7 linked regions of the Homo sapiens genome follow. The gene in region 5 interacts genetically with the main gene of each other region. Each region holds a gene or a part of one and is shown on either strand. Other genes may lie near its edges.

The links.
Region 1: changes in XRN2 (region 5) and TFB1M together harm fitness less than expected from each alone (positive genetic interaction), as found in Homo sapiens cells (one large-scale study listed by BioGRID).
Region 2: changes in XRN2 (region 5) and FAM98B together harm fitness less than expected from each alone (positive genetic interaction), as found in Homo sapiens cells (one large-scale study listed by BioGRID).
Region 3: changes in XRN2 (region 5) and TRA2B together harm fitness more than expected from each alone (negative genetic interaction), as found in Homo sapiens cells (one large-scale study listed by BioGRID).
Region 4: changes in XRN2 (region 5) and NUDC together harm fitness less than expected from each alone (positive genetic interaction), as found in Homo sapiens cells (one large-scale study listed by BioGRID).
Region 6: changes in XRN2 (region 5) and CDC27 together harm fitness more than expected from each alone (negative genetic interaction), as found in Homo sapiens cells (one large-scale study listed by BioGRID).
Region 7: changes in XRN2 (region 5) and REXO2 together harm fitness more than expected from each alone (negative genetic interaction), as found in Homo sapiens cells (one large-scale study listed by BioGRID).

Annotation. Positions count from the first base shown.
Region 1 is NC_000006.12:155,311,685-155,315,788, forward strand, and holds the start of TFB1M (dimethyladenosine transferase 1, mitochondrial), read right to left. Parts: upstream 2,801-4,104; 5' UTR 2,745-2,800; coding exon 2,612-2,744; exon of another isoform or gene 2,433-2,611; intron 1-2,432. UniProt on the Homo sapiens protein: Mitochondrial methyltransferase which uses S-adenosyl methionine to dimethylate two highly conserved adjacent adenosine residues (A1583 and A1584) within the loop of helix 45 at the 3-prime end of 12S rRNA, thereby regulating the assembly or stability of the small subunit of the mitochondrial ribosome.
Region 2 is NC_000015.10:38,485,127-38,488,210, reverse strand, and holds the end of FAM98B (protein FAM98B), read right to left. Parts: 3' UTR 501-3,084; downstream 1-500. UniProt on the Homo sapiens protein: Positively stimulates PRMT1-induced protein arginine dimethylated arginine methylation.
Region 3 is NC_000003.12:185,924,515-185,928,014, forward strand, and holds part of TRA2B (transformer-2 protein homolog beta), read right to left. Parts: intron 2,221-3,500; coding exon 2,087-2,220; intron 1,113-2,086; coding exon 950-1,112; intron 1-949. UniProt on the Homo sapiens protein: Sequence-specific RNA-binding protein which participates in the control of pre-mRNA splicing. Can either activate or suppress exon inclusion. Acts additively with RBMX to promote exon 7 inclusion of the survival motor neuron SMN2.
Region 4 is NC_000001.11:26,928,243-26,931,742, forward strand, and holds part of NUDC (nuclear migration protein nudC), read left to right. Parts: intron 1-3,500. UniProt on the Homo sapiens protein: Plays a role in neurogenesis and neuronal migration. Necessary for correct formation of mitotic spindles and chromosome separation during mitosis. Necessary for cytokinesis and cell proliferation.
Region 5 is NC_000020.11:21,344,831-21,348,330, reverse strand, and holds part of XRN2 (5'-3' exoribonuclease 2), read right to left. Parts: intron 2,498-3,500; coding exon of another isoform or gene 2,449-2,497; exon of another isoform or gene 2,438-2,448; intron 1,917-2,437; coding exon 1,781-1,916; intron 186-1,780; coding exon 78-185; intron 1-77. UniProt on the Homo sapiens protein: Possesses 5'->3' exoribonuclease activity. May promote the termination of transcription by RNA polymerase II.
Region 6 is NC_000017.11:47,151,296-47,154,795, forward strand, and holds part of CDC27 (cell division cycle protein 27 homolog), read right to left. Parts: exon of another isoform or gene 3,492-3,500; coding exon 3,377-3,491; intron 642-3,376; coding exon of another isoform or gene 624-641; coding exon 511-623; intron 1-510. UniProt on the Homo sapiens protein: Component of the anaphase promoting complex/cyclosome (APC/C), a cell cycle-regulated E3 ubiquitin ligase that controls progression through mitosis and the G1 phase of the cell cycle.
Region 7 is NC_000011.10:114,438,294-114,442,266, reverse strand, and holds the start of REXO2 (oligoribonuclease, mitochondrial precursor), read right to left. Parts: upstream 2,801-3,973; 5' UTR 2,739-2,800; coding exon 2,592-2,738; intron 1,612-2,591; coding exon 1,528-1,611; intron 1-1,527. UniProt on the Homo sapiens protein: 3'-to-5'exoribonuclease that preferentially degrades DNA and RNA oligonucleotides composed of only two nucleotides. Binds and degrades longer oligonucleotides with a lower affinity.

The sequences.
Region 1 (4,104 bases), on a different chromosome or scaffold from region 5:
AGAATGCAGCACTTTTCTATAGTTATTGAACATTGAATATCTGAATAAGCAATACTAGTTTCACATTCAGAATCTTCAGTATTGCTAGTGAAATCCAAAAGCAAAAAGTGCTGAAGTCTTATTTTTATCTAGAGACATCTTGGTGGTGGTCACTATGGCAATGGCAATAAGTTCTTAGATCGTAAGATTTTCAGAAATTTGAATTCTTAGTCATTTTCAGGAAAAAGTTAAATTGAGCAGTTGAGGGTTTTTAAAGCTTTGCACACATGCATGTTAATACAGAAAAATTAATTTTTTAATTAATCAAATTCAAGTTAGCAGCCCTTAAGACATCATAAAAAGGTAGAGTACTGACTCTGTGCAACCAGTCATCACATCTGGAAAAACATGCAATGGGCTGGTCTTAGTGATTCTGAGATATGGAAATCCAAGGAACTGGTCTTCCTAGGATAGTGGAAATTTAGTCACTAAAAACATACCAGCACTTCTTGTAGGTGTTCACAGTCCTATTTTTGCTTGTTTTCAACAACATAACTTTGTCAGCTAAAATGCGGAAACTAGTTTCTCAGCCATCCAAAAATGGTTTAGTCTTTTAACAGGGAGGGAATTAGCATCCACTGACCATCTTATCTATTATGATGGATTTACACACATTCTCACCTAATCCTTACATGTTAACCAAGGACTCCTATCCCAATTTCATTTCTCTTAACTTTTCAGTTTCCTTGTCTATTGTTTTATTTGTACAAGGTCATGGACTTCAACATAGGTATAAATCCTAAAGCCAATGCCTCTCAGAGGGAACAGGAATGATACATTATGGAATAAATTTAATACTCTCCTTCTTTAAAATGGAGAGCTACAACAGTAGGCAGGTCTCTGCTCTCAAACTTTTCAGGCACATTGAAATACAAATGAATATTAAAGAAGCGCTATCAAATCAATGAGCTTGGATTTCAATCTTGCTCTCTTCTGCCTGAGCTTCTAACCTCAGCTAAGTACCCTCATCTCCGTTAACTCTGGTTCCCATAGAAAGAGTGGATAATATCTAGAATTTGAAACTTACTCCTGAAGATAAAGGCTCATGAGAAAATGTATTTGAAGGATTTTAAAAAATACACAGACCTATAACTTCTGCCCTGAGAATGGTGATTTATATTTAGAATGTGGCTAATAACAAGCAGAAAAGGCTGGTACTAGCTATTACTAGAACCAAAGAATTTTAGAGTGGGCAATCTTTTAAAGTAGTAGGCCCTTCTTCCAATTAAAAGATGAGGAAACTACTGGACATGGTGGCTCACACCTGTAATCCCAACACTTTGGAAGGCCGAGGCGAGTGGATCACTTGAGATCAGGAGTTTGAGACCAGCCTGAGCAACATAGTGAAACCCTGTCTTTACTAAAAACACAAAATTAGCTAGGCACGGTGGCTCACGCCTGTAATCCTAGCTACCTGGGAGGCTGAGGCACGAGAATCACTTGAACCGGGGAGGCGGAGGTTGCAGTGAGCTGAGATCATGCCATTGCACTCCAGCTTGGGCAACAAGAGTGAAACTCCATCTTAAAAAAAGAAAAAAAAAAAAAAGAGAAAACTTGAGTTAAATTATTTTATCCAAAGTCATATTGGTACAGGCAGAATAAAGACTACATGTCCAAGAAATAAAACATTTTATGTTTTCTGGAGTGTGCTTCATTTAAGTGAAAATGAACTTTTTGGGTGTGATTTACTGCTCTTTTCAACTTCTGAAGTGGGACTAAATAGAATGAAATATGAAAATCTCAAAACCTAAGTACTCCAGCCGTGACTTAGTAGACGTATTTGTAATATATTTTTGCAACCTCATCTCATAGAACATCACTAAGCAATGGTGATGGTGGTTAAACCAATATATAAATACATTCGTCAAAACTCATCAAATTGAGCACTTCAAACTTATTAATTTTATTGCACATAAATTATATCTCATAAAAAGTAACTTTAAACAATTAGGTGTGGGAATGTAAACTTGCTAAAAGTAAGCTCCTCGAGGAAACACCGCCTTGTTCACGCCCATATCCTACCCCCGGCACTAGCACAATGTTGCTTGTGTAATATGTACTTATGAATGAATATTAGCGCCCCCGAGGCTTAGACTGAACAGGTAAACGTTTAAAAAACGAATCATACGAGGGATACTCTTTTCACCAAGTTATTGATAAAATCCTCGCATCAATTTAAATTCTGGTAACTTTAAACTGCATGTAAAGCAACTGCAGTCAGCATGTGCTGTACTATTTCAGAATGATTGATTTCACAGTGACCCAGATTCCAATATTCACTAGCGCCTTTCACGACCCATGAACCCTTCCTCCCCTAGGGAGCTTGGCATTTATGCAGCCTGCCGGCAGGCTACACCCCCCCGAACGCGGAGTTTTGTGAGCAATCAACGCACTTCACGTGTCTCCTGGGCGGTGGGACCGGAGTTCTGATACAAAGAGGTCGAAGGACCTGACCAAAAGCCCGTCGCACGCCAGTGCCTGGACACCCGCCCGCGGGGACGTGCAAGACCCCCCGGCCCACGCCCCCACGGACACTGGGGAGACATCCGGGGAGCACTGCTAAGCCATCCACCTGTCAGCCTCAAGTCCAGGAGGAAATTCTGTGATAGCTGCTTCGCTGCTTGCAGTCTTAACAACTTAATGATTTCTCGAATCGTGGGCAACGGAGGGAGACGGCAAGTGCTGAGTTTTCCGGAGGCAGCCATGATACGCGGCAAGCACCATCCAACCCTACCTCACCCAGGACCTTCACCGCCGCTCCGAAAGAAACGCGCAGGGGAGGAACCTGCGAGACCTAAGGCCCGCCTCGGAGTCAGCCCCATTGGTCAGACCTATCCCACCGGAAGCGATGACCGCGGACAGGAAATTCCCGGCGTGCTGAGAGCGCATGCGCTAAGTCCTGCCGCGAGAAGGGCAGGCTGGGTGGTCGGCGGCTTCCGCCTGTGAGAGCCGGGGGAGAGCCGGGTGGACTAGGCTTCTCCTGGGCGGGCTATGGGGAGAGCGCCCAGGAGGGCGGGACGAGGCGGGGCCTGGACAGGGTGGGGTTTTTCGGAGGAGTTGCTCTGAGAGGTGCAGCCGGTTTACTCCCGCCCTGAAGTTCCCAAGGGCTTCCGGCTCTTTAACGTTCTAAATACCTGTCTGTGAATATTAGAGGAAAAGCGGGTGCTTAGAGGCAAAGCTACTGTTTGTTAGCAATTCTTTCTTACTGTGAGGCGTTTTTAGAACCGCCGCTCTGCAGATGCTGCATGATGGGTTTTTAACTTCGTTCAGCCTCAGTTTTTTCATCAGTTAAATGGAGCTAATGTCTACCTCAAAATTGTGAGCACTAAATGAGAGAGATCGCCTGGTGTGCACGTTCAGAACATAGTGCACGCATGGCATTGGGTAAGCTCCCACGTGATCAGTGGTGGCTGTTATTATTTGGCAGATGAATAATTGGCCAGTGTAAAGAGGTCATTCGATTTGCTAGGATTACAGCTAAGAACAGAGAGAAGACTGAAATATGAGTTCTGTCTTTCCGTTATACGAGATAAAAACAACGAAGCAAAAAAAAAAAAAAATTAAAGTTTCTCTGATAGGTGGGAGAATTTTGCTGTTTTAACCCTGCTTATGTTTGGACATTGCTGCGTTGATCACAAATGAATTTTAAAGTTTCTGTTCCTCAATTAGTAAGTTTTTAAAAAAGCTAATGGAAAACGAAACAACTATGGGTATGGATATAAAAATGAGGAGTACTTTGAAATTCCAGTGGAAAACTCAACCACCTTCTATAAAAGCTGTTTTAAAAGGAACTGAGATAATCTCCTAGCTTTAAAAAATAGTGATGACTACCATAGAGGTAAGGAGATTTGCCCAACGTGGCATCAAAATGTAGACTGGAAGTACAAACTCTTGATTCAGATATCTTATCGTCCAAAACACAGTATACCTGACAAAGCATTATTTCACAGTTATATTCATTATTTCCCGTACTCCTCACAATGGTCCCATGTGAATGAGATTATTATTCTTAGTTTGCTGTGAAGAAATAGGGGAGGTGAGGTCATTTGACAATGCCCAGAGTCA
Region 2 (3,084 bases), on a different chromosome or scaffold from region 5:
AGAAATGCAAGAAAAAAACAAATGTACAGATTGTAAAGTTTTTTGATACCTAATGTAAGTTTTCTTTGTGTAATATTTATATGATAAAAGACATTAGGATCCCTACAACACAAATGTCTTGTGTTTCTTCTGCTTCGTGACCCCGTAAACACTTTACCTGAATTTTTCCTATATTCCACAGCTAAGACCACTGCCCTATTCTATTAATCAAATTGAGTTTTCCTGGAAGGAAAGGCAAAGCAGCTATTCAGTTTAAAATTTTCTACATCTTTTTACAACACGAAGAAGTAACACTACAGAAATATTCAATCTCTTTCCATCTTATTCATAACTTACAGTGGTCCCCAAATATTAAGTCTATAAATACTTAACATTAAAGGAGACAGACTTGAGGTTGTCCCTTCTCTGTGGCTTTTAATTCCACAGTTTCATCTAAGCAAACTAGCATGTAAAGAAGAAATCCTTTGAAGCTATGGATAAAATTGGTAACGACAGCTCAATCCAGGTTACAGACCTACTCAGGGCAATTTATTTGTGGTCATGATTATTTAGAATGATCAGACATAGCCACAATTTTCCCTTAATCCCCAGCTAATTTTTGTTTAACCACACCAATGAAGAAAGAGGAAAAATTTCAGTCACTCAAATTCCTCTGTGGAATGCATTCTGGAACATTTAGATGGGGGTGTATTTATCATTTGGGCAATTCATAATACTTCATACAAAGTAATAAAGTCACACTGACAGCCTGATCCTGAAGGCAAGATTAAACTGCCTGCTCACCTTCCCCAATTTTCATCCCCACATTTCTCTAACCTGTGCTCCTTCCAAGGTATAGATAGTATCACTGCTCAGGACATTTTTCTGGTCACAAATTTTTTTTAGGTTGTCATGCCTCCTCTTGTCACAGATACAGGTAATAAGATGTTTTTTATTTAAAATGTTTTCCTTTTTCTGTTTAATGAGGCAAGGTTTCCCTGATCTGCAAAACAAAAGTAAGTTCAAAGAAAACCCTTGTTTCCCTTTTGATGTGTGCTTATGAGTAATAGTGTGGTGATTATGTTATAGACAGAATACATGCTCTTTATACGGTCGAGAGGAAAGATGACTACTTTAGGCAGAAACTCCCAGTAAGATCATGTCTATATTTGCTATTAGGTACCAGGCTGGACAAAAAGAGAAGAAAAAAGGGGAAGGACAATGAGGTAATTAAAAAATGAAATTGAGAACCAGGCAAAAAAGAATGAAAAGGAGGTATCAAAAAAAGTGTTGGATTTTAGGAAGCAGTGGAGTGCCATTCATCATACTCCATGTCGTATTGCACTCAATTTATAAAACATTTTCACACTATGGCCTTTCCCATTAAGGCCCCAAATTTCCTTCCTGCTATTCCAGATACTGCTCAGCAAACTGTTCTACAAAAGAAATTTTTACTGAACAAAGATTATCAGGAAAATCCCACCTTACAGGAAAGAGTAAAATATTAAGAGTCTACCTGATTCAGCTTTTCATTCAATTAAGGTTTATAGGAATGTGTACATAGGAGTGGTTTCAGCTCCAACACGATTCCAGGAGCAAGTGCTAAACTTTGATAGGAAATAAGTGATTGTAGTGAATAACCCAAGCAGCACTCCTATAAAGGTACAAAGAAATCTTATGGAAAATCTAATGAAACTGATAAACTATTGTTTCTGCCATATTTACCATAAACCTTTAGTGGTAAAAAAGTTGAAAGTAGTTGTAAATCTCCTTCATCAGCAACTAATGCTACCAAAAAAGAAGTGAGGCAGAAATGTAAAGGTTTTAAAGAAGATTTTTAAACAACTCTTGAAATATTTTACTCAAGTAGTTTTTTTCTTAAAAGTTTTTAAAAATTATTTTTCAGAGTTCATAGCTACTGATAAAGGTATTTTCTTAATTATGGAAAGCCTTTTTTTCAGCTATCACAAATGAAATTACATCTTTTCATTAAATATAAACACACAAAAAATAAATTTACAAATAACCAAAAAATTTTATATTTTCCTACCTTGAACACATTTCTTCAAAGGGTTAGCTTGAAAAATACATGTCTAAGATTACAGAATATTCAATAGTTACTTTTAGGGTTTTAACATTATTTTAGATTTTACCACAGAGTTTACCAAAAAAATAACAACAAAAAAACCTGCTAAACATCAAATACCACTTGTCCACTGGGAACAATTCAGCTTTCTATCAGTTGAGTTGGTTAGATCACATTAAGTTGTTATGTATAGGTATTGACCAGAAGCCTACAATGAGATACAGATTTTACACTAAGATTGAAAAAATTTATGGTACCAGCTCTTTTTCTCTTAACTTTCTACACTAAGAGAAAAATACATTACTTGGCCTACATCTTAAAGCATTCAAAATAGGCCCTCTGTAAGTTTTTAACAAATTGTATTTGTATTTAGGTCTTTAAGAAACAACCTGAGATGATGGTAAGTGTCTCATTCCTCATTTGACAAATGAGGACAAATCACTCCTTGAGAACTAAGGTCATTTCAATCCATAGCACCCCTGACCTAGTGCCATGATTCAAATTCACAACTCTTGATAGCTAAGACTTTGACTGCTCCAACTAGCAAATCACATATAGCCATTCCCTAACTTTGTGTTTCCCAAATCTAGCTGTGAATCAGAATTACCACAGGATGCCTTAGCCCTACCCTTGATCTACTGAAGCAGAAAATTACTGCCTTAATTCTGTGTGATACAGGTCAGCCTGCCTTTTAATATTTGGATATCTAAAGTGAGAGCATAAATGATGAAGAGACCAGTTTATAGGACTATTTCTCACACCGTCATGTAAAGTTGGTATGTGTCTTTGCTCCATTAAAGTATTTCTGACCTCAATCTTAAACTTTGCTTTGTCAAACAAAATCATGCTGATTTCAAATCCAATTAGAAAATAAGTATGTACAGTAAAAAGTAAACTTGGGCTTCAATTAATGAAACTTTAACAGAAACATGGCTAGAGAGGAATCTCCTCCTATAAGAGAAAAAAATGATTCACAACAACTGCCTACTAAATACAACTGGAAGTGCCTTTCCCTATTT
Region 3 (3,500 bases), on a different chromosome or scaffold from region 5:
AAGAAACAAGAGTTGGCCAGGCGCAGTGGCTCATGCTTGTAATCCAAACACTCTGGGAGGCCAAGGCTGGTGGACTGCTTGAAGCTCAGGAGTTTTGAGACTAGCCTGGGCAACACAGTGAGACCCCATGTCTCTACAAAAATATAACAAATTACTGGGTGTGGTGGCATGCCTCTAGTCCTAGCTACTCAGGAGGCTGAGGTGGGCGGATCGCTTAAGCCTGCAAGGTAGAAGCTGCAGTAAGCTGAGATTGCACCACTGCACTCCAGACTGGGCGACAGAGTGAGGCCCTGTCTCAAAAAAAGATGACAAGAGGAAAGAATAAAGAGTGAGCCATATGTTGCTAACATTCCAGATGCTGTGATGAATTTACCTAAAGATTCCATTTATTTCATAAACTAACAATTTACTAGGGAAAAATTCTACTCTACTCTAAAAACATTAAGTCCCCCCCTGCACCCTCCTCCTAAACCACTTGGATTATACAGTGAAATCACAATAAATATCATCTCATTTGAAGCCTTTCATGAAATGTAAAAAATGCCTTAACAACACCCAAAAGAAATTAGCTTCAAATTAAATGGGAAAGTCAGGAGAGCATCTAACTAGGTTTATGCAGCCTGGAAAGAGTTAATGTTAGCATAGAACTATATTTTGAACTAATGTACTAATACTATACTACAGTATAGTAATGCAGTCGGAAGTTTTTTTTTTTGATGGGCTAAGGAGTTACACCATTGTGTCAGTATTATGCTTAATTGACAGGCAGCCCAAATGCAGACCCCGTCATGGAAGATTAACTTAAAAGACTCTCTCAAAACACTAAAAAAGCCTCTGAAGATTTCACTCACGCACCAACTGCTAAAGCTCTATTGTCAAAATCAGCTCTAACTTTAAGAAAAAGTAAATTTAGGCAGTTGACTGCTTCAAAACCAGTTTTTCATCTTACCCGATTCCCAACATGACGCCTGCGAGTAGACATGGGAGAATGGCTGTGGCTGTGCCGTCTACGATAATCTCGACTGTAAGACCTGCTACGTGATCGTCTATGGGAGCGGGAGCGAGACCGTGACCGGGTATAATGCCTTCGGGAGCTTCTTCTGGATCTAGACCTGCAAGACAAAGACCTCCTAAGGTTATGACTGAAAACAAATATTGTCTTCTTTATTACTCTGTTCTAAAGTTAAACTCCAAAAGAGGGAACAATCCAGGAATATGCTAACATGGTTACCAATTTAGTAGGATCAATACTTTTCTTCTCTAATTATTTAGTCATTTCAACTTTGCTAGGAAGCGTTCTAAAAACCACAAGCTCTCCTCCAGTATTTCTTCCAATTAAAGACATATTACTTATCTTTTACAAATCAAGGCACGCAGCATTTTACTAGCTTGGCTTGTGCCCATCTTTCCCCCTCAGAAGACCATTCTCTACTTTTCTGTCTCCCATTATGCCCACCATTAATTTAATACAGTAACAAAATCACAAGGAGTATTCCCCAGCAGTTAAAAAAACAAAAAATTGAGTGGCTCTTGACTAACTAGAGTGACTCTAAATTGTCATCGAAACGAGGACACACATTTAAGAAAAGGGGTGCTGTTAATTATGCCTGACCACAGGCATAAATGGTATCGCCCCAGGCAAACCAGGATGTATATATAGCCTACTTTTGACCAACATTAAAAAAAAAAAAGCGCACCATATATATACTTATTTATCAAGAATTCTAATTACTGAAAGCCAATGTTCTGCAGTATATTTGCCATACTAGTAAGCAGTTTACTTACATTTAGTAAATCCTCACAACAACCCTGAAGAACTGGTACTGTATTACTAATTTGCCTTTTATAAAGAAGCTAAAGCTGAAAGGTTAATCTGCCCAAACCAGCAAAAATAGAAAACCCTGACTCCAAAAGCCCAGGCTCTTAACCGCTTTTAGTCTTGCCTCCCAGAACTTAAGTTCACTTCTAGTACCAATATTTAATAGGCCAACAAATAATCTAACCCTCTCTACCTTCCTGGTTTACAAAACACGCACCAATTTCAGAGCTAAGAGTAACGAGGAAATCTCAAGACAGTCTTTCTTACCTAGATTCAGATCGGGACCTGGACTTTGATCTGGAACGCCTGGAATCTTCCTTGGAGCGAGACCTTGCAGGGGTATGCCTTGCAGATTTCCCCGATCCGTGAGCACTTCCACTTCTGGAAGCAGAACGGGATTCCTACACGTAGATGTTAAAAGTTTAATTTGCACACTTTCTGGGCAACTTTAAAAACAAATAAGCTGCTGTGAGATAAATGGTGAGGGACAGCAATCCCCTTCCAAGATAAGAAAATATAGGTAAGGGCAGGAACTGAATATACCTGGTGTTAATAGTTTCATTGCTCCAAATGACATAAGTCAATTAACTTGTCCTTTCTTCCACCTTTTTGGAGCAGGGATAAGAGTTATTTGACCCCACTTCCTTCAGAAAGGGGTGCCAAAGTCAAGCAGTTAAGGGAACTGTCCAAGGACTGTGTTTCAGAATGTTACTCCATAAAGACTAGGGTGAGGCGGAACCTTATTAACTATGACACCTATACTTTATACCTATTTCAATCAAGTTGCAATCAATAAAACAAAATCCTATATAATTTATATAATTTACTTAAAAAAATGCTTGATTTTTAAAAAGACCTTGACCTTTCAAGTTACTACTTATAATTCAGTGATAAGAGATAAAGATGATGATCTCAGTTTCAAATCCTAGAGAAAAGCAGAAACCTAGTGGAAAGCAAAGGCTAGCTTGAAGGACACTAAACCCTGTAAAACCCTATTGCATCTAACCATGGTGGGAGGCCCCCTAAAAAACTGAAAGCAACCAGATGGAGCTACAACAGAACAGCGAACTACACACAAATAAGAGTAGAGAGGGTGTCAGAGATCCTCCACAGCTTCTCCAGCTAAATGGAGATGAGCCAGGGCAAACTTATGGAAAACCAGGAATTAACCTAACTTACCTAGTTACTTAAGTACACATCAAAACCAGGCAGCTAAATCAGGAGCTCCTAACCTAGGGCCCAGGAAGCAAAAGAGTACAGAAACTACATACAAAAGCCAAAGTTTAGGTAAACATTGTGTACTCATAGCTTTCCCAACCAAAACTGGGATTGGCTGGCAGGTTAAGGGGGGATTTGTAATGAAAAATAGCAAAGGAATGGTAACCAGGATAACTAGGTCACCAACGAGCTAAAGACACATAATCAACAAAAGGGTATACTAAGTAATGAAACCAAGGAAAAGTTCTGCCAAGGCACCAAAACAGTAGATGAGGAAAGGACAGAACCTACTCCTAGTCAGTCTGATAGCTAGGTAAAATTATCAAGGCAACCTTTATTTTAGGTTATCAAACTTAGACAAAGTAAAGCCTGGTAAGCCTTTCTACTCCAGAGAGCAGAAATGGCAAGACTCAAAAGGAAGCAGTATTACAGTAAGTCACTATATGGCATGAATCAAAGGTGA
Region 4 (3,500 bases), on a different chromosome or scaffold from region 5:
TGAATTTTTTTTGGTTAAAAAAACAAAATTTGCCATCTGTCATACTCTATAAAAATACCAATAATAAAAATCCTGTAAGGAAAACTAGGAAACTATAGTCTTATGTGGGGGAGACTTTTCAGCATTAGAAAACTGGAAGCTATAAAAGAAGAGATAGCTGTTTGCCTTTTCAGATGCTGAAACTTTGTAAATGGTAAAAGACATTTAAGTCAATTGAAGAACACCAGATTATGAGAAAATATGCAGTGCAGAGGAAAAATAACATTTAATTGTGAATTTCATATTTAGGAACTCATAAATAAAAATTAGCCAGGCCTTGTGGCACATGCCTTTAGTCCCAACCACTCAGGAGGCTGAGGTAGGAGGATTGCTTGAGCCTGGGAGGTTGAGGCTTCAGTGAGCCGTGATTGTGTCACTACGCTGCAGTCTTGGTGACAGAGCAGGACTTTGTTTCCAAAACAAAACCCACAATGAGATACTATTTCACATCTGTTAGGATGGCATCCGTTAAAAGATAAAACAAAATAACAAGTGTTGACAAAGATAGGGAGAAACTGGAACCCTTGTACACTGTGGTGGGAATGTCAAATGGTGCATCTGCTATGGAAAACGTTATGGCGGTTTCTCAGAAAGTTAAAGAATACAACTATCGTATGTTCTAGCAGTCATGCTTGTGGGTATATACCCAAAATAATCAGGAGGAGGATTTACTTGCACACCCATGTTCACAGCAGCCTTATTCATAACAGCCAAAAGGTGGAAGGAACCAAAGGCTCCATCAGCAGGTGAATGGATAAACAATGTGGTATAGACATACTCTGGGATGTTATTCTGCCTTAAAAGGGAAAGAAATCCTGTCCATTGCTACATGGATGTACCTTGGAGGACATCATGTTATATGAAATAAGCTGGTCACAAAAGGACAAATACAGTTGATCCTTTGTATCCGTGGGCTCTGCATCCATGAGCTTAACCAACCACTGATGGAAAATATTTGGAAAAAAAATTTTTTTTAAATGACAGTACAATAATAAAAAAATATGAATTAAGCCCGACGTGGTGACGCACACCTGTAATCCCAGCTACTTGGGTGGCTGAGATGGGAGGATGGCTTGAGCCCAGGAATTTGAGATCAGCCTGGGCAACATAGCAAGACCCCTTCTGAAAAAACAAAAAAAAAAAACAAATTAAAAAAATATAATCTAATTACTTACATCCGTAGCAGTTACATTGTATTAGGTATTAGGTAATCTAGGGATGATTGAGAGTATGCAGGAGGATGCATGTAGGTTATATGCAAATAAAATGCCATTTTATATAAGGGACTTGAGCATCCTCGGAAATTAGTGTTGGGGAGTGGTCCTGGAACAAATCTTCGTGGGTACGGTGGGACTACCCTATTGCATTCCACTTACATATAATTGAAGGCATATTTTTTGATGAGTAAATATTATGTGACTATCTAAAAGAAAAGTTACTGTTTAAAAACATAACTGTAGGGCCGGGCACAGTGGCTCATACCTGTAATCCCAGCACTTTGGGAAGCTGAGGTGGGTGGATCACCTGAGGTCAGGAGTTAGAGGCCAGCCTGGCCAATATGGTGAAACCCTGTCCCTACTAAAAATACAAAAATTAGCTGGGCATGGTGGTAGGCGCCTGTAATCCCAGCTACTCGGGAGGCTGAGGCAGGAGAATCACTTGAACCCAGGAGGCGGAGGTTTCAGTGAGTCGAGATCGCACCACTGCACTCTACCCTGGGCAACAAGAGTGAAACTCCGTCTCAAAAACAAAAACAACAACAACAGCCACAACAAATGTAACTGTAATGGTATACCTTCTCCAGAAAAGCATACCAATTCTTTAAATATTACCAGAGATCCACATCCAGTCAGGGTTCTGATTTCCCTCAATGCTCTCTTACTATTGTGTTTTGTTTTGTTTTGAGACAGGGTCTCGCTCTGCTGCCCAGCCTGGATGGTGTCCAGTAGTGCGATCATGATTCACTGCAGCCATGACCACTAGGCTCAGGCGGTCCTCTCACCTCAGCCTCCTGAGTAACTGGGAGTATAGGCGTGCCCCACCACACCCAGCTAATTTTTGTATTTTTTGTAGAGTGGGGGTTTCACCATCTTGCCCAAGCAGGTCTTGAATTTCTGATTCTGATCTCAAGCGACCTACCCGCCTTTGCGGCCGCCATTGTACCCAGCTCTTTTGTTTTTTAAAAAAATATGGGCTGAGATGGGGGGATCACTTGAGGCCAGGTGTTCAAGACCAGTCTGGTCCAACATAGAGCATATCTGTACAAAAAATAGAAAATCATAGCCAAGAGTGGTGGCACAAGCCTGTAGTCCCAGCTACTCTGCAGACCAAGGTGGGAGGATCTCTGGAGCCCAGGAGTTTGAGGCTGCAGTGACCCATGATAAACGGCACTGTAATCCATCCTGGGCAACAGAGCTAAACCCTGTCTCAAAAAAAAAAAAAAAAAAATAGTGGGCTGGGCACGGTGGCTCACACCTGTAATCCCAGCACTTTGGAAGGCCGAGGTGGGCAGATCACCTGAGGTCAGGAGTTTGAGACCAGCCTGGCCAAATGGTGAAACCTCGTCTCTACTAAAAATACAAAAATTAGCTGGGCATGGTGGCAGGGGCCTGTAATCCCAGCTACTCGAGAAGCTGAGGTGGGAGAATTGCTTGAACCTGGGAGACAGAGTTTGCAGTGAGCCGAGATCATGCCATTACACTCCAGCCTGGGCCACAGAGCGAGACTCTGTCTCAGAAAAAAAGTGTGGTAAAAAGCACATCATAAAATTTACCTTCTTAACCTTTGTTTTGTTTTTTGTTTGTTTGTTTGTTTGAGACGGAGTCTCGCTCTGTTGCCCAGCCTGGAGTGCAGTGGCGCCATCTTGGCTCACTGCAACCTCTGCCTCCCAGGTTCCAGCAGTTCTCCCACCTCAGCCTCCCGAGTAGCTGGGATTACAGGCGTGTGCCACCACGCCTGGCTAATTTTTGTATTTTTAGTAGAGATGGGGTTTTACCATGTTGGCCAGGCTGATCTCGAACTCCTGACCTCAGGTGATCTGCCTGCCTCAGCCTCCCAAAGTGCTGGGATTACAGGCATGAACCACTGCGCCTGGCCTTTTTTTTTTTTTTTTTTTTTTTGAGGTAGAGTCTCGCTTTTTCGCCCAGGTTGGAGTGCAGTGGCACCATTTCGGCTCACTGCAACCTGTGCCTCCTGGGTTCAAGAGATTTCTCGTACCGGTTGGGCACGGTGGCTCACACCTATAATCCCAGCACTTTGGGAGGCCGAGGTGGGCGGATCATGAGGTCAGGAGATCGAGACTATCCTGGCCAACGCGGTGAAACCCTGTCTCTACTAAAAATACAAAAATTAGCCGGGCATGGTGGCACTCTCCTATAATCCCAGCTACTCGGGAGGCTGAGGGAGGAGAATCGCTTGAACCCAGGAGTCAGAGGTTGCAGTGAGCCAAGATCGCCACTGCA
Region 5 (3,500 bases):
AAAAAACATTAAAGACCCAAGATTATTATCTAATCCAGAATTCTATAAACTTTATGACTTTAAGTAATTAAGCTTACCGGTTTCGTACCCTTCTCAAAATCAGATGGCATGTCTGCAATGCCTTCAAAGTCTGAAGCAAATGGTGCATAATGAAATGGATAATACCACTTCCAGGAAGCACAGCCCTAGAATCATTAAAAAAGTAACAACAAAATCAAAAACCTATGTTAATGATGAACACAATTAAAAAAAACAAAAATTAGACTGTTAACCTATAATATTCTACTTATAAAACACATGACTTCTGGCATATATTCCAAATACTGATCTTTTCCATGACTCCTAAAAATTCCTTAAGTTTGAAGTTTCTAATTCATATCAATGGCTCTTTGACTTTAAAAATGCTACAAAGCATCTTTGAAAAATCAGTAGTTACTGCCAAACTTCATATTCACAAACACAATTTGGTAAGATTTTTATCCTTAAAATACATTTGGTGACATTTCTTTCCATCTCTAGAGCTGTCATCATCAAGTAAAACCAAAAGCAGTCACAGCAGACATTTACTGAGCATGTAAGGTGGTTAGAGACATTATTGGAACAGCAGTTGAAAGTAAAACAGCCATGAGTTTCATTTTAAAATTCACCATTATATTTTCACCTGACAAGTTTCTTTTGACTATAAAAACATGTGAGTAAACACAGCAAAAAGAAAACAAAAGCAAGTTATACTCATAGGAAAGAGATATCTAAGATGTGTTAAGACAGTGTCTAGTGAGTTGAAATCTTGACAGTAGGAGTAAAACGCAAACAGAGTACTTAACGGTCAATACTCAGTGCACTGTGTTACTTTCTACTTGTCAACAAACTTCATCTATTCCCAGGTCACACCAAATTTAACTTGGTTTGCTCTCTAAGCACGAAACCAGATATTAACTATCAGTGTTACAGTCCTCAATATGTCTACCTAATCTCTCACCAATCTGACATCTCAATTATCAAAAGGTAGGATACAGGTTATTCCAATTAGAATGTGCTTCATGTATCATCACTATATTATGAAAAGCGTAGCATTCAAATTCCTTTAGAATTCTTATTTGTATTTTCCAGGGTTTGTCCTCTGTTCAGTCATTCAGTGACTGTCAATTCATTACTCAGTTATTTTTAAACTCCAATTTAAAAAGCACTAACCTTTCGTCATCTTAAAGACAAAGTGCAGTCAACCACATTACTTGATCCTGAAAATACTTTTAACAAAAATTAGCTTTGTTTCTATATTAATATCTAAGAAACTTCCACGTCTTCAGAAACAAATATTTACAAATACGGACTTCTGAATAGGGAGCTTTAAAAAATGAGCCTGGGTTTGTTTTCAAGATCCAGCTCAATAATACTATTATTACAGAAATTACTGGGCTGGACGCAGTGGTTCATGCCTGTAATCCCACTACTTTAGGAGGCTGAGGCAGGCGGATCACGAGGTCAGGAGTTTGAGACCAGCCTGACCAACATGGTGAAACCCCGTCTCTACTAAAAATACAAAAATTAGCCGGGTGTGGTGGTGCGCTCTGTAATCCTAGCTACTCAGGAGGCTGAGGCAGGAGAATCGCTTGAACCTGGGAGGCAGAGGTCGCAGTGAGTTGAGATCACGCCATTGCCCTCCCGCCCAGGTGACAGGGCAAGACTCCGTCTCAAAAACAAAAAACAAACAAAAAAAAAGAAATTACTATTTTTCTTAAATGATTAACTACAAATTCAGAGGAAAATATTCTTTTTGTACCTGGTAATAATATCTAAGAACCCAGCAAAGTCCTTCAACGTACGACTGCACAACTTTCCGACGGAATTTCTCATCAGCTGCATCCACATCAAATTTGTTCTTGTAGTACCGCTGCTTCCAGCCAGCTTCCCATAACCTAAAACCAGGCACAGCTCATTTATGCTGAATTAACACACCTTCAGTAACAGGCTGTCTACTAATTTATACCCCAAATCAATTTATATTTAATACCCAGGGGAAATGTGAAAGAGTTAAACAGTCATGCTAACACAGATTCATTTAACTATTTCTAAAAAGTCTAATTTCATAGGATTTATTATCAACTTAAAGACAGTTAAACACACCCCAATCACTGATTCTGGTAAGACCATTATAAAACCACATTTTCAAAAATGTTATTGAAAAAGATACAGAACACATTTGCTCAAATTTTAATACTACTTTATATGTTTCTTTGTACAATTCTAAAGCTACATTTTAAGATTCAAATATTGAAGATATTTTAAATAGTTCAAGTTCCTTAGTTTGTTAAAATATATTTAAACCATACAAAGAAAGTCAACTAAATTACTTAAGACGCACACAGGTAACTTTTTTAAATGTAAAAAAATAGTTTATAAAAGAATAATCTAGACATTAGGCAGAAATTATGTGTATACCTACTCTCTCTATCCTTGCTTGGGCCTTATCCCTCTTTCAGCTAAGAGTTGTTGATGGCTTAAGGAAAGGAGATAGAGATATATATAGAGAGACATACACATTCTATATCTCTATATATCTATGTATACATACACACACACAAACATATGTATGTTATGGTAAAATCTAGAAGCAGGTCAATGAATCCACTAAATTATCATTCATCACTGAAAATACAATGTGACCAACCACATTTTCATCCAATGTATTATTTTTTTTAAGAATCCATTTCTTATTCTCTAAGATTTAACATTTAAGGAACATAAAGAAGCCAAATAACACTTTACAAACATCAGAACAGATCAAGAACATCAAGATGATTCTCCATTTAGGCCTCTTTTCCATGTGCCAGATTTCACATATTAATTGCAGTCATGTTTCAGAATATACCATATCAATTTTAATCTGCCCCTCCCACAACACAAAGGAGTCACAGAATAACAATTAGAAATATCCCCCATTCATAAGGTGGATTATCACTATTTTACAGAAAAGGTTAATGAAAAAATGCTAAAAGCCCCAAGCATTTCTTGGTAGAGGCATTTCCTCTAGGATTAAACAATGATTTCCTCTAGGATTAAACAATTTCCTCTAGGATTAAACAATAAAATACTAAACAAATCAAGTTACCTATTAAACTAGTATTGATCATGATGGCTACATAGTAAACAAAACCAAAGACATGCTGTAAGAGGAAAACCCAAAGTACAGAAAGTAGAGGATAGAAACTAAAGATATACAGAGTAAATGTTCAATCACAAGTAGACATGGATCTGAAATCAAAGAATGTTAGAAAAATGTGCAGAACCACACGTGACCCTTGCAAAGTTTCTAATCATAAACACAAATCACACACTTTCCATGTCCTGTAAAAGAAGCATGAGCTGTAGGTGACTACTGTCTTGTTTACCTTTGAAATAGATCGTTTTCCTAAATTCTTAATGAGCTACAATTATTGAGATTGTTGGCCTTTTGCACTTGGAGCCCACGGTTCAAATCTGGATTTAATTACATGAGAGGT
Region 6 (3,500 bases), on a different chromosome or scaffold from region 5:
ATTTAGGTACATGTTCACAGTTTTAGAAAGGAGAAAGAAAATTGTATCTTCCTTTTAAAATGTTAGCTATAATCTATTGAGTCCTTGAAGAGGAAAAGAAAATCCTATCTAACACCATTTCTGTGTGGAAATAGATTCATTATTTGAAGTTTATTTGTCTGTTATTTTTATAATCTGTTTATAGACATGCATAATGTGGGGAAGGGGAGTATGAAACCTATCTGTACCTAAACTATAGAAAGGGTCATGTGCATAAGAAGAAAATTACAAATCCATGAGGCAATCAGAGTAAACTAAAATGCTGCTTTAGTTAACTATTGTCTTCTGTGCATTACAAAACTCAACTCAAAATTACATTAGTGTTGTAAGTTAGAGGTTTCAAATTTTACATCTTCAAAATTTACAGTAGTTATTCTAGAATCCACGAGAGTCACTATCTGCCTAAATTAAAGAAATGTAAAGAATCAAGTTTTATGCCAAGAAAAGTTGAATAATTACAATGATAAATACCTTGTTTGTGGACCAGAACTTTGTGTTTGTGCAAGAATTGGAGTTACCTCTCGGCTATTTCCACTCTGTGAGAAGACAGACTTTGTTCCAGTTTGGCCGATTCTGGCAACAGACTGTAAAACACGAAAAGTCTAAGGTTTGTGAATTATGGGCTGCACTGTAAATGATAAAAGACAACACAACGCTCCCATCTACATTTTCTCAATACAAGCAGCCATAATATACTGTCACCTTAAAGATAAACTATTTATATCATATTGTTAATTATTGTTGTATTAGTATGAACATCAGTCTATTTCCCTGTTTTAATCTCACAGTATTTTTACCTCTATAATGTCTTTTCATCTTTCGCTTTTTGTTTCAAAGACTAAAAATCCCCAGAAGCTATTCTTTTCATCTCATTGTGACCATCCTCCATTTATTACATACCTTCTCTATTTGGGGTTAAGTACTAAAAAATTTTAAGACAGCTAAATTCTCAAGATTTATGATTTATCTCATTATACACAGAAAAAAATAATAATACGATAAGATTTTATACTCCTTTGGCACTTGGTAACAGTTCTAAAGGAGTTCAGAGGAGTAGATTTTAAAAAAACAACCATCTGATTACTTTCCAAAACCTAAGGATATTGTTCTTTAGAGTTAATATTGCTTAGTTTTTCTAATCTTCATTAATTGGTTTCTGTTCCCTTGGAGAAAAAAAAATCTTTGCTTGGCTCTTCAGTCTTCTCTAATTTATTCCCTTATTTCTATTCATTTCCACCATCTAGCTTCTTTAAATGATCTATGACTATTGTATCAGTGCACTGTTTTTCCCCTTTGGCTACCAGAGAATTTTCTTCAAAACTTACTGTTACCCTGATGTCCTGTACACAATCCTCAAACTGCATATTATAAATAATCACTAATAATCACTGTCTCATCAGATATTAAAACCTTATTTTAGCCTTTCCTGCATTCAACATCACTGATCATGCCCTACTTTTTGAAACTTTGTGTTACTTCCAAAACATTACATTATTTGTCCTGCCACTTCATTTGCTGGCCCTTTATCCTTCTACTATTTTTAAATTAGGTTTACTCTGTTCTCCTTAGCTACTCTTTCTTTCCCTAGGAGAGCCTGGTCATTTTAATAGTTTCAATTATTATTTCTATCAGCAGGTCACATTTTTTCCTCTATGACTAACTTTCTACTGAATATTTTCATCTAATGTACCACCACTTCAAAATAAAACTTCATAAGCCTTCCTCCGCCTTTTCCAAATTGGGATCACTACATTCATCCAAGGGACAAAAGTCAACTCTGGCTTTTCCTTATTTATCAAAGAACTATGTACACTGCACTCAATACCTGGTTTGATATTTTCAGTTGACACTGCATGCAGACCTACATGCGTGACTTTTCTGGGAATGTCTTGTAATAAGGTAAGAGGAGAACAGAGGCAGAAGAGGATGAGAGAGCAATCTTATCTGGGCACTAAAATCATGTGCCTGCCCACTGTCTTAACTTGCTCTGGTTATTATGGTTATTATGGCTCTTCTAGTTTTGGCCTACTTCACCTGGCATGCTAACTACCATTTTGTTTTGCCTTCTTCATAACTGTAATGTTTAAAACAATCCATACACAAACTATTTTGCAGTCCCTTTTAAGTATTCTTGGAGTTCCTATTATCACTCACTAAGGAGTTATTATAGAAAAATCTTTTGCAGATTCTAAGGATGTTCAGGAGTAAAATAGTAAAAAAACAACTATAAGAAGAAACATGTTTCTATTAAGGTAAAGAGAGTATAACTGTTATTCACATATTAGTATGACTTGTTTAGCTTCCATTTCTTGAATATTTATGAAGCATGGCAATAGGTATTTTATATATAGAACCTAATTTAATTCTCACAGAAGTTACCTTGTGCCACAGATATGCTTTTTAAAAATGGTATTTTGGCCTCTATTTCCATATACCTATAAAAGGGAACATTATAAAACAAGAGCCTCAGCAGGGCAGTGACTCATGTTTATAATCCTAGCACTTTGAGAGGCCAAGGCAGGAGGATTGCTTGAGCCCAGGAGTTTGAGACCATCCCTGGCAACACAGTGAGATCCTGTCTCTACAAAAATAAAAGTTAAAAAAATTAGCTGGGTGTGGTGGTGTACACCTATAGTCCTAGGTACTTGGGAGGCTAAGGTGGAAGGATCACTTGAGCCTGGGAGGTAGAGGCTACAGTGAGTCATGGTCACACCACTGCACTCCAGCCTGGGCAGGAGAGCGAGACCCTGTCTCAAAAAAAAAAAAAAAAAGCCTCATGAAACTTGCCGCAATATTTACTATAAGTATACTACCAAATATTTTTCATTTTCATGTTAAAACTATACATCCATGATCTACCAAAAATCTTATTATCAGAAATATCTGGCTTTACCTGAGCAAATTTTTTTTCATATAATTATTAGTGTTATTAAAAAAACATATATACACAGTGGTAGGGACAAGTAAAAACTATGGCAGACATAATTTCTGTTATTTATAGTCAAGTAATATAAACAATATTAATTTTGTTTTTTAAAAAGGAAATTAAAAAGTAAAAATATGATTATGTTTATTTAACTATATGCTGAAATAAACTAAATTTGTGAGATACAATCTTACTTGGCCAAAAGAGTAAGAAGTCTGTCTCCTACTGTAACCAAGAGGCTACAACAATAATGACATTCTTTTATATTTAGATCACCCTCTACCTGCTGGGTTCAAATATAAGGCAAAAGCAATTACATAAAGTAAGATTTTCCCTGAGATTACCTTTAAAAGATTGAAATAAACAAGTTGCTTTAATCAATTCCCAAACTGCATTTTACATGGAAAATACCTTTTTTGAAGGGGCTCCGGTGGATGGCACATCAATTACAGGAGGTGTATTAGTGTAGTTTTGTAAATAGGATCCATCTCCAGGACTTGGGGTTTCTAATGGCAAAATCCCAAAACTGAGAAGA
Region 7 (3,973 bases), on a different chromosome or scaffold from region 5:
AGTAGGATGCCTGCTCTTCTACCAGCATAAAACATTTTTCTCAGACTCTTATAAAAGAATAAAACATACTGCAGAACTGATAGCCCCTAAGCTTTTTTTTTTTTTTTAACATCTTTATCCTCATCTGACTTAGTCCATTTACAAATGCTGCATTCATCTGCAGCTGTGTGAATACATACCCAAATTTCCTCCAGGGTACATATCAACCTACGGGTCCATTAAACTGTCAGTATTTCACATTATATCAACAGTCTAAAGGAAACACTCTTCTTCGGCCAAGGGTAAGTTAGACTGGTAAAATAAAGACACTTCTCTTCACTATTGATCTCCAATAAATCCCAAGTAACAGAAAAAAACAACCAAATCTAAAACTCAGGGCTTTATTTATACAAAGTTAAAAAAGTTGTTATGATGAGAAGTACAAAGTCTCATGATTCTCCTACAGTTGATATGTGGGGAGGATAAGCCTGGTACTCCACAAACGCAGTCATTAATCTAGAAATACGTCCTCACCTCTTTTACCTACACAGCAAAACAAACAAAAGTGTTAACTGCAGATTTACGAAATGTATCCAGTGCCAGTAACATATCAATGCTACCCTCTAGGAACTTATTTTAACAAGACTCTCTTTTCCACAAACATCCCTACTTTGTTCCTATTCTGGAGTTTCTGGCTCTGAATACTGCTGACAGTATAAAACAGAATTATTCAGGGTCAGGGATTTCACCCCCTACCAGATGGTGTCACATCCTTATTAAATGTTTCATGAGTGGCTGAAATGCAGCAGGTGTGTTTTGTTTTGCTAAATGTTTCAGTTGGAAGTAGCATGCAAAAACCTTAATCATGCCCAATCTGTCAACAACAGAACACTTTACGGGTGTGCACTAACAGAAATTCTAAAATCTTAATACTGATCTAGAAGAATCACATGTCCTAGTTGAAAAGGCAGAATTGTAAATATGGAGTCAAGTTAAAGTCAAGGTTATGATATAAAGACGCAAACATTGGCACGAGTCACCAAATCTGATGGGAGGACAGCTGGCTGTCCTACTTGTTAGGAGCACCTTACTGAGACAGCCTGAGTTAAACTCTTGGCTCCCCCAGTAAACAGCCACTGGGACCTCAGACAAATTACCCAACATCTCTATGCTCAAGTGTCCTCATCCATCAAATGAGCATTATAACAATAACTAACTTATAGTTGCTGTGAGAACTAAGAACAAAGACATATAAAGCACACAGAAACTGTAGCTGGCATACAGTAAGCGCTCAGTAAACGACAGAATTTATGTTTCTGTAAATTTCTGGCATGGTTAATTAAAAAATAATGTTTAATTTTTAATTTTCACTAGGCTGTGAGATGGATTACTTTGGTTCTAGTACCACCCCTACCATGACCTAGCACATTACCTTAACCCATATAGACCTCAACTTTCTTATTTTTTAAATAAAGAAGCTGGAAAAAATGATGGTTATATTTCCAGTGCCCTTTAAAAAGTATGACTGTATTACATGGCATCACGTACTTCAGCCAAAATGTTGAGATCAGAGTCAGTTATCAGACAGGCCATCTCAATAATCTGGTCCTTCTCAATGTCCAATCCTGTCATCTGCAATTAAAAATAAATATATAACACACACAAAGCCATCATTCTGGCCTCTTTTACCCAAGTTTATTTAACAGGAATTCCCTCAAACATAGTCAGCTTGTAATCCATAGCCGAAACAGAAGAGAAAGAATGCTCCTCGGGCAACTACTGAAGGTACTAAACACGAGTCCTCGTTTATTCAACAAACATTTACCAAGGGCCTGCTATTTGTCAAGCACTGAGATTCTACTCCGGGACAGATGCAAAGTAAGTAAAACTGAGTGCTGACATCACTCAGTTTTGGAAGAGTTGGATAACTACCACCACCACGTCTCTGCAGAGTTTACAAAGTTTTCACATTAATTACACCACTGGACCTTCACAATCTAATGGAAAAACTACTGTTATTATCCTCACTTCATATAAACTGAGGCTCAACGGTGGGAGGAGCCCTTGTTTCGGGCATGGAAAGCCTGAAGGGATAGGAACTGGGTTCTGGTCTCAACTCAGACTCTCACTAACAGCACGACCTTGAATGAGTTGAATCCTTTCTGTGGGCCTCAATGTTCTCACTTATGGAATGAGGGGTAAGGCTGAGTCATCTCCGGAGTCCCGTCTGGCCCTAACAACCTAGGGTCCTTTAAGGATTTAGTTGGGGGAAGCTGGGAACAGAGCCGCTGCCCCCGCCCCCACTCCAGTGACCCAAGCCCAGAGACGCCAGAGCGTTAGGAAAAGTCCACATCTGGGCGGAGGGGTAGGGAGGAGAAGAAGCCACACGGAGGACTCCTCCCTTGTGGAAAGAAGCCCTACAGCGCAGCACGGCGCCCAACACCCGCAGGACTCCTGCCTCCGGACTTGCCCTGCACCGCCCGTGGCCGGCCGCGCTCACCTGCCACACCTGAGACCCAGACCCCCAACGCTCTCCCAGGACGGGCTCGACTCCTCGGTTCCACGAGCGAAACCTCACTCGCCTCCCCAAGCCCCCCGCCGACCTCACTCACCTCCAGGTCCACCCAGACCATCCGCTGAGCCATGCTCTCCCCTGCCGCCATGGCTGCGCCACCTTCGCGGACACCTCGGGCCCCGAACCGTCCGTGACTCCCACCTACACCCCGCAACAGCCTGGAGCCCAGGGAGCCGCCTAGCATCACCCGGGACCAGCAGCCACGGCCCCAGTCTCGCAGCCGGCGCTGGCGCAGGCGCAATAGTCGCTAAACGTCGCAAACCCACGGGGAGGCGCACGAGCTGAAACCACACGTCCCAGCGTACGGTGCGCCGGCTCGCCCTCAACAGCCTGGCTTGGCTGCCGAAGGGAATGATGGGACTTAGAGTCTCACCTGCGGTTGCGACCAGATGCCCCACCCCCGCCACGTGTTTTTCTGGTGTTACTGGACGCGCTTGTTTTTCACTGCTAAGTTTGTTTGCTTCCAGGAGTTATTTCCTGAGTTTTGGTTAGTTGTAACCGCGCAGTTAAAAAAGAACTCTTACTTTGGTTGGTTGGAAAAGAGCTGATTATCTCTGTATGACATTTTTTTCATGTATATCTTTCCTTCTTTGCATTTCTTTTTCTTTTTTTACTTACCTGCCCCTCTATTCCACAAACTGGATATTTTCCTCATTTATTTGGGACCAAGAGGCAGTGTGCTTTTGGGGGCCAGAAGGCCATTAACATTATCATCAAATCATTTAGAAATATTTAAATAAGATCTTGTCTGAGAAATCATTTAGCACGTATCAGGTGTTCAGTCAAAGTTAGTTACCTTCCTTCTTTTTCTTATGGGAAAGCGGTCCAGATCCAGACCCAAAGAGTGGGTTCTTGGACCTCCTGCAAGAAAGAATTCAGGGCGAGTCCATAAAGTGAAAGCAAGTTTATTAAAAGTAAAGAAATAAAAGAATGCCTACTCCATAGGCAGAGCAGGGGCATGGGCGACCGAGTATACTTACACTTATTTCTTGATTATATGCTAAACAAGGGGTGGACAATACCGGGAACTGAGGGTTCTCCGCTTTTAGATCATATAGGGTAACTTCCTAAGGTTGCCATGGCATCTGTGAACTGTCATGGCGCTGGTAGGAGTGTCGTTTAGCATGCTAATGTATTGTAATTACTGTATAATGAGTAGTGAAAATGACTAGAGGTCACTTTGTCATCTTGGTTTTAGTGGGATTTGGCCAGCTTCTTTACAGCACCCTGTTTTGTCAGCAAAGTCTATTGTGACCCGTATCTTATGCTGACTTCCTATCCCTTCCTGGCACTTAGAATACCTAACCTCCTAGGAATGCAGCCCAGTAGGTCTCGGTGTTATTTTACCCAGCCCCTATTCAAGATAGGGTTACTCTTCAAATGCCTCTGACAATTTGGCCAAGGATTATCCCTTATTTC